Linked DNA regions of Homo sapiens: all the other regions are linked to region 3. Evidence: fine-mapped expression QTL. A gene starts in region 3. Each other region holds a variant in brackets. All regions are shown on one strand. Distances are between the middles of the regions. Region 1 has its middle 25 kb from the start of ING3. Region 2 overlaps LOC124901733 (a long non-coding RNA gene). Region 3 holds the start of TSPAN12 (tetraspanin 12).

The links. PIP is the estimated chance that this variant, and not a neighbour inherited with it, causes the effect. A credible set is the group of variants that fine-mapping cannot tell apart.
Region 1: its variant is the best candidate, but not a certain one, in a credible set for the expression of TSPAN12 in coronary artery (GTEx, PIP 0.80).
Region 2: its variant is the best candidate, but not a certain one, in a credible set for the expression of TSPAN12 in nasal epithelium (TOPMed, PIP 0.67).

Annotation. Positions count from the first base shown.
Region 1 is chr7:120,924,073-120,926,754 of GRCh38, forward strand. No RefSeq gene overlaps it. Among named protein-coding and RNA genes, the nearest start is that of ING3, 25 kb to the right of the region's middle. The variant C/T (reference allele first, on the strand shown) is at 1,138.
Region 2 is chr7:120,880,832-120,883,513 of GRCh38, forward strand. The region is part of intron 1 of LOC124901733 (a long non-coding RNA gene); the gene reads left to right. Among named protein-coding and RNA genes, the nearest start is that of TSPAN12, 24 kb to the left of the region's middle. The variant G/A (reference allele first, on the strand shown) is at 1,534.
Region 3 is chr7:120,856,780-120,859,461 of GRCh38, forward strand. TSPAN12 (tetraspanin 12) reads right to left here and starts at 1,365. Exons shown (of 8, transcript NM_012338.4): 1 at 1,041-1,365; 2 at 1-54. LOC124901733 (a long non-coding RNA gene) reads left to right here and starts at 56. Exons shown (of 2, transcript XR_007060491.1): 1 at 56-429. RefSeq lists silencers at 308-527, 720-1,019.

The sequences.
Region 1 (2,682 bases), 67 kb after region 3:
TAAGGTGAAATTAAAGAAAAAGCCATTTTTAAACTGACAGTACTGTACTGAGGTATATAATTGTGTAAATTAATACTACACACATTGGCTTATTGATGGACGTTGATAAGAGTTTTTTTACTGAACTAGTATTTCTTCAGGTCATTTCACTGAGTCAGTAGCAATTTACATATTTTGGTTGTAACAGCCAGACTTCTTCAGTTCATTTTACAGCAAACAGGCTAAGATACAATCTAATATATTTGAAAACATAAGATGTGTGACTTCACAGTTACATTAATTGCTTATAGTACTACAAAACTTTGGTGACTCACAAATAAGAATTCTGATCAATATAATTTTGCTGAATCTCCATATTGAAAAAAGTATACATTATGCATTTATAATTCTACATATTTCACCAGCAAGTATATTGCTAATAAGGGAGACTATTTTTGACAAGGCATTGATGAGAACCGAATCTTTTGCTTTTTTGTTTTTTGAGGCAGGGTCTCACTCCTGTCACTCAGGCTGGAGTGCAGTGGCACGATCCACGGATCGCTGCAGCCTCGACTTCCTGGGCTCAGGTGATCCTCCCACCTCAGCCTCCCAAGTAGTTGGGACCACAGATGCATGTCACCACATCTGGCGAATTTTTCTGTAATTTTAGTAGAAACCGGGTTTTGCCATATTGCCCAAGCTGGTCCTGAACTCCTGGGCTCAAGTGATCTGCTTACCTCTACCTCCCAAATTGCTGGGATTACAGGTGTGAGCCACCACAACCAGCCTGCTCATAATTTTATACATCACATAATTGTAAGAAGTTTCCACATACTTCTTGTTTCATCTATTTAAAATGTGTCCCTCAAACCTCCCCTGCCCCTGACCCCTCTGTTTGATCCATCTACTTCCAGTGCTCATTGCTATAGCACACATCTATAGGATGGTATGGGTATGACCCTGCACCTTTGTGTCAGAACAGTGTGAGTCAGTACAGCAGGCACGAAAGTATTCCTAGAAGCCAGCCCTACAAACTACATAAATATATCTTCCTAGATTCACATAAAAGGTATGTCTTACTCGAATTCCCATCAGATCCTCAACTTGCTCAGAACTCCAAAGCCACCCAACCAAAGGATAAGTGTAACAGAGAGAATG[C/T]TGAAGTGGAAAGAAAGAGGTTTTAACCAAGTGAAAACATTTCATTGCAAATTTTACAAAAATCATAAAACCACATGTGGTGGTGGGTTGAAAGGTGGCCCCCCAAAAGATATGCCTATGTCCTGGCCCCCAGTCCCATAAATGTGACCTTATTTGGGTAGAGTCTTTGCAGATGCAATTTAGTTAAGGATCTTAAGAGGAAACCATTCTGAATTGCCGAGGTGGACCCTGAGTCCACTGACAAGCATCCTTTTAAGAAAAGAGAAGGCAGGCGTCTTTATGAGAGAAGATAAACATCCTTATGAGAGAGGACATAGACTCAGAGAAGGCCATCTGAAGACGAAGTGACACAGACATAAGGAATGCCTACCGCCACCAGAAGCCAGAAGAGGCAAGGCAGTGTTCTCCCCTAGAGCCTCCAGGGAGAGTGCAGCTCTGTGACTTCTTGATCTCGGACCTCTGGCCCCCTGAACTGGGAAGAAATTTCTGTTGTTTTAAATCATCATGTTTCTGGTAATTTATTACAGCAACCCTAGGACTAACACTCCATATCAACACTAGAGTCCTTTCCAGAACCTTATTAAGAGATTCAAGTCAATGTGGGGCTCTGACGCTGAAGCTTCCTTAGCTCTACAGTAGATTTCCTCTGCCTTGAATAAAAGGACAGCCAAACTTTTCTTGTCTAATGTTATATTTGAAATAATTTCACATTTATTCTTCACGCAGATTCTCCAATTATTGATATTTGATAACATTTTGATATATATGTAGATAATAAAAAACTGTTTAGAAAAAAATTGTTCATAAAAACAAATTTCTGTAATTGTTCAAAAAAAAATGTGTAGTTAACAGCCATGATTCTCTCTGCTCCAAATACTTCTGCGCATAATCCCTAAGAAAAAAATCATTCTCTTACATGTCTACAGTTTGATACAAGAATCAAGAAATTAACAATGATTCAGTAATATTATCTAATTTAAAGACTATATTTTTTTCTCAATTGTTCTAATAATGTTTTTAAAGAAAAATCTGGTCAACATTGTAATCAAAGATCATATGTCATGTCCTTTGGTCTCCTTTAGTTTGAAATTATTCTCTTTTTTTTTTTGGCTTACAATTTTGAAGACTATAGGTCAATTATTTTGTAGAATATCCCCTAATTTGGGTTTGTCTGATATTCCCCTATGATTAGATTCAGGTTACACATTTTTCTATAGATTGTTACAGAATACTACATTTCTGTAGAATGCTACAGTAGTAATGTTGGGTTCTTCCAGAGCATCATATTAGGGGCACATGATATTGGTTTGCCTTATTTTTGTTGATGTTAAACATTAATCACTTGGGTTTCAGTGTTAGACAAGTACTTGTAAAACTGCTATGTTTCCCTTGTATTTAATAAATATTTTGGAGGAGATACTTTGATACTACATAAATATCCTGTTCCTCATCACATTTTTACCCACTTGTTCTAGAATCAGCTAATCATTCCTGTCTGAACTGATTATTAATATGATTGCTCCCAAGTGATGATTTTTTCAAACA
Region 2 (2,682 bases), 24 kb after region 3:
ATGGCTAGTGAAAGAAGGAGATCCTAAGGAATTAAACAGACAGCCCAAAATCTATATAGACAATTGTGTCACTTAGGGGTGTAGGGTATGCAATCTCTGGGAGATTGCATGAGGCCAGAACTCCAACTCTATGACTTAGAGTTCTGGCAGGGTATTATTTACATTATGTAGACCATTGGCTAACTTTGCAGAAGGGTCTTTGGAGCCTCCATTTGGCTGCCAGCCATGATTCACTGCAGCAGCATGTTGTCAAGGCAGCTAGTCTTTCATCCACACACCCATGCTGACCCTTCTGCAGAAACTAACCCTTTCTCACCTAACAACACAAACAACCTTATTTTCACACTACCATTAAGAATCACATCTATTATTTATAGGTCATTATGTAACAATTCTTTTCATATAATACTTCTAAGCTTCACCACAACCCTATAGTATAAGTATTATCATCCCCAATTAGAAAAGTAAGAGGTTACATATCTTGCCCAAGTTCTCAGATCTAGTACAAGGTTGAATTGGGATTCAAACCAAAGTCTCTCTGGTTCCCCAACCCCCTTGTCACTGATAACTAGTGATCTATTCAGTCATCACAATAAATTCTGGAGAAGGGACAAAAGCCATTTTGAAGTGCAAACTCATGAAAAAATCATTAAGTAAATTACATTATTAAAGTTACAATCCTGTCTTCATTATTAGTAGAACTGACTTGCTTATCATAAGAACCTATGATTATCACTTAAAGTGTGTGCTTTAATCTTTTTTTTTTTTTTTTTTTTTTTGAGACGGAGTCTCCCTCTGTAGCCGAGGCTGGAGTGCAGTGGCGCGATCTTGGCTCACTGCAAGCTCCGCTTTCTGGGTTCACGCCATTCTCCTGCCTCAGCCTCCCGAGTAGCTGGGACTACAGGCGCCTGCCACTGCGCCCAGCTAATTTTTTGTATTTTTAGTAGAGACGGGGTTTCACTGTGGTCTTGATCTCCTGACCTCGTGATCCACCCGCCTCGGCCTCCCGAAGTGCTGGGATTTGTGTGCTTTAATCTTGATGATATGTTGTATTTTTAAATATTCAGTTATTAAAAAGATAATGTATTTTAATGAGGCAATAAACAAGTTATATTAATTTTTTTGTTTTTGAGACAGAGTTTCGCTCTTGTTGCCCAGGCTAGAGTGCAGTGGCGCGATCTCACTCACCGCAACCTCCGCCTCCGGGATTCAAGCGATTCTCCTTTCTCAATCTCCCAAATAGCTGGGATTACAGGCATGTGCCACCACGCTCGGCTAATTTTGCATTTTTAGTAGAGACAGGGTTTCTCCATGTTGGTCAGGCTTGTCTTGAACTCCCAACTTCAGAGGATCCACCAGCCTCAGCCTCCCAAAGTGCTGGGGTTATAGGTGTGAGCCACCGCACCCGGCCACAAATTATATTAATTCTAAAATGGAAGGAATTGCTAATAATGCTATTAGAATGTGGTATGTTAAAGGTCAGTTGTCTGCCTCCCCAGTCATCCTGGGTTAGCATTATCTTGATGAATTCCC[G/A]TGGTCTGATATAGAAACCTACCTCAATTTTTTAACATCAGAAACTTGATTTGTCTGTATGCTAAAAGTGATTCCTATTAAATGAGAGTTTTGTTTCTACCAGACTAATTTTTATGTCGTAAAAAATTATTAACAGATTATGTTAGTTTCTTTATTCAATTTATTCATGTCATAATTTAAAATGATTACTTCTTTTTATGGTTTTCAGTTCATTTTAAAAGCCTTATTACTCCATTTACAAAGCTAGCAAATTTTCAATCTCTTTAAAGGAAGCCCTTAGTAACTATCTAGAACCAGTTATAAACCTTGTTAATTAAACTCATTTTAACATTTTAAACTACATTAATACCTTTATATACTCAATTTCTTTCTACACATACTTACATTTATCTAATAAACTTTCTCAAGTATTAAGTAATACTTATAAAATTAATAAATAAAACTTTTAAATGGTTTCTTTTAATTTTCCTTAAATAATCAAATATCACATTTATACTTAATTGTATTCAGTCTACATACACATTTCTAAATCAACTCTCAATTAGACATTTTAAAATGGTGTTACAAGCTTGATCTGTTATTCTAACAAAGTCTTTAATCATTATGGATGCTTATTATAGCAAATACATGCATGTTAATTAATGTAAAAATAGTAATATCACATTGTGGTTGCCTTAAACATATCTACTATTAATTCTAAGTCTCCCCAGATATAAAAAATGCTTTTCCACAAAGGAAACATACCATCTCACAACATTTTGGGGGTTATATCCCTACATAATTTTTGGAGCTGCCTTCTCAGCTTTTCAATGATCAGAGGATAGTTGAGCAATGAGACTGGATCCTGTCTCTGATATGGATGGAACGTATCAGCTCCTATAAATTATAACACACTGTTAATAGGACTTCAAAAATGAAAGAGAAACATTTCATGTGGCTCATATCCATTAAAAATGAGTTACATTATTATCTAATTTTCAAGTCAGGTTAGAATCTATAACTTCCACCTAGGTGGCCATATCTCTTAATTGGATTTTGTTTTCCTTAGTTCTTAAGATAAGTAGATGTATTCACACCTAGGGGTAAAGACATTTGAGTGTAAGGCAATCCTACCTTTTCTCACTTTAATCAAATCATACAACTCTTCCT
Region 3 (2,682 bases):
GAGAAGCCCCATCCTTTCACCACATCCTACTCCCAAGGGCAAAACGGCAGCGATCTGCAGGGGGCGGGGGAGAGAGAACACGGGACATCTCACCATCACGCTTCCCACAGCCTGCCCGTCCCTCCTCCACCCGCCCTCAGCAGGGTCCAGAGGGTCCCGAGGCCCAGTGCATTCGAGACATCGCCTCATCAAAAATCATTTGTTAAAATCATAATGGTAACTAAACTCCCAAAAGTTCCAAACCGGCTTCAGATAACACCTGCTGGGAAAAGAAAAGAGCAACTATCCGGATGAATGAAGTCGCACAGTAAACTCGCGTTCTCAGGGGACACGCGGCGGAGCCCTGTGCATTCTGATGAGACGCTCTTGAAAACCTCCCTCACTCCACGCCCCTCCTCGAGGACAGCTGTGCTCGGCACTGTCCTGAAGGTGAGAAACCACACTGCCCCCTACCCCGGACACGTCAGAGGCGCCACCGGCAAGCCCGAGAGAATGAGCGCCCTTCTAGTTAGGACAGTTCCTGGGCACTCCAACTCCGCACCCCTCTACCCCGTCCCGCAGCTCGGGTGTGAATGCAAGGGACTGGGGCGGCGGGGCGGGGGCGGGGGCGGGGGCGAGGGGGCAGCGCGGAGTTGAGATTCCGCCCGGCTACTAGGGTTTCTCTGGGAGAACGTGAGAAATGATGTTTTCGGCCCCAGAATGATGGATTAGCCTGGGACAGTGGGCGGGGGGCGGGGGGCGCCGGGGAATTAGGGCCGATGCAGCTGTGCAGACGCCGGGTTAGTCATTCAAACCCCGCTTCCCCCGCCCGGGACGCTCCCGCGACCCCTCGCTCAAAGCCGCCCGCGGAGCACAAAGCGAGCGCGGCCACCGACCCAGCCATCGCGTCCGCGCGCCCCCGGCAGGGCGCGAGGGGAAGCGCCGGCGGCAGGGAGCCCCAGAGCCAGCCCTTAAGTAGTTTAGCACACAGCGCGGAGGGCAGCCGCCGGCGGGCTGGCGGGACAGCGGGCAGGAAAGGCGACAGACGCGTGGCCACTTACCGTCGGCGCTGGGCCCGGTGCCCCACGCCCGCCTGGGGATAGTCGGGGACGCACGGCGGGGGCTCATCGGGGCAGGGAACTTCTTCGCGGAGAGCCGGAGGGCTGCATTGGCTTCAGCTGGAGACGCTTCTTTCTCTTCCTCTCCCCCCGCCGCCGCCGTCGCCGCCTCCTGGGAAAAAGAAAAAAAAAAAAAAAAGTCCTGGGCAGCAGTTGCTGGAAAGTCTCTGCTAAGCCACCTCCCAGCGCCGCTGTCCCTCCCAAGTCCTCTCCGAGTCCGGACGAGGCAGCGGCGGCAGCCAGGGCCAGCTGCACAAACTCTCAGCGCATGCTCGAGCCGCTGGCTGCCGGGGTTGGGTCCTAGTGGGTGTTTCTTGTCCCTCTCACCCAGCGAGAGTCCCCAAAGGGACGCTTCACCTCTGCAGGATAGGGTCCAGAAGATAATGCCTAGGAACTTGGGAGAAGTCCGTGCAGTAAATCCCTTTAAAATGGTGGCGTCGAAGGAATGGAGGCTGGGTTATAAGCATAGAGAAGCAGGCTTTTATTATATGATAATATTTGTGTTTGAGAAGGGGGGTGAAGGGGTGGCCCAACCCAATTCCTGCAATGAGAAACTAGTTTTCACAACCTTTATGGAGCCACCTCCTGTGATTTGTTATTAACATGGTGCCCTATGATCCTTCTTATTGCTTTGTTGCCCTCCCGGATTTTTTTTTTTTTAAGTTCTTTCCCACTTTCATAGTGCACTAATAGCATTTACGGAAACATCAGAGTAATCATGTGCAGTCTGACATGCAGAAGAGGAGGAAAGAACATTTTTAACTCTTAGAAGTAACTCAAGCTTTCCAAAATTTCTCACGATAAGATTGTTTTGAGTTAACTGGGTGATTTATTTTGAAATGTGTACATAGTAGTGGATCTTTGGAAAATCTAATTTTTTTAAACTAGAAATTCATGAAGTATTACACAGCAGGAGACCATCCTTCCAAAAGAATCTTCCCTTTTAGAAGACAGAAGTTTCACACTAAATAAAATGCCACTGGATCATATCCTCCACATAAAATGTGGATGTGTTGTGCTATGCCTCACAGTACTGCTCATTTCTAGGATTACTTTTGTGGGCACTGCATGGCAAATAAAACTTCACCAGCAAATATGAATTACCTGGAATACGAGCAACATCTTTGACCTAATAACTGGAGTCCTTGGATTTCCTTGCAGAAAAAAAAAAAAAAAAAAAAATGGAATCCTATGTCCATGACTGCCTGTCTAGAGTTAGTTGCTGCATGACTGGAGTGACAATAAGACATGCAGTCTCATATGGAAAAGTCAAGACCAAAAGACAACATGGTTGTCCTGGGTTAGGCTAGGAAAATTATTGGTAAGCAAGTCACTAAGCAGTATGTAAGACAGCAACCCAAAAGAGTATAAAGAAGTATAGCCATACACAAAAAAAACACCAAGAAACATGTCCAGTTATCCATCAGATGACTCCAACTCTGATAATGAAGCAGCTTCTAGAATACTGGGGAAGAGCAAAGAAACCCACTTTTATCCTCTGCCAGTTTCTTCTCAAATTAGGGTGCATGCCTATTTTAAGCAAAGGACTGCTGAAACAACCAGCCATCCAAATGCTGTTGGTGCC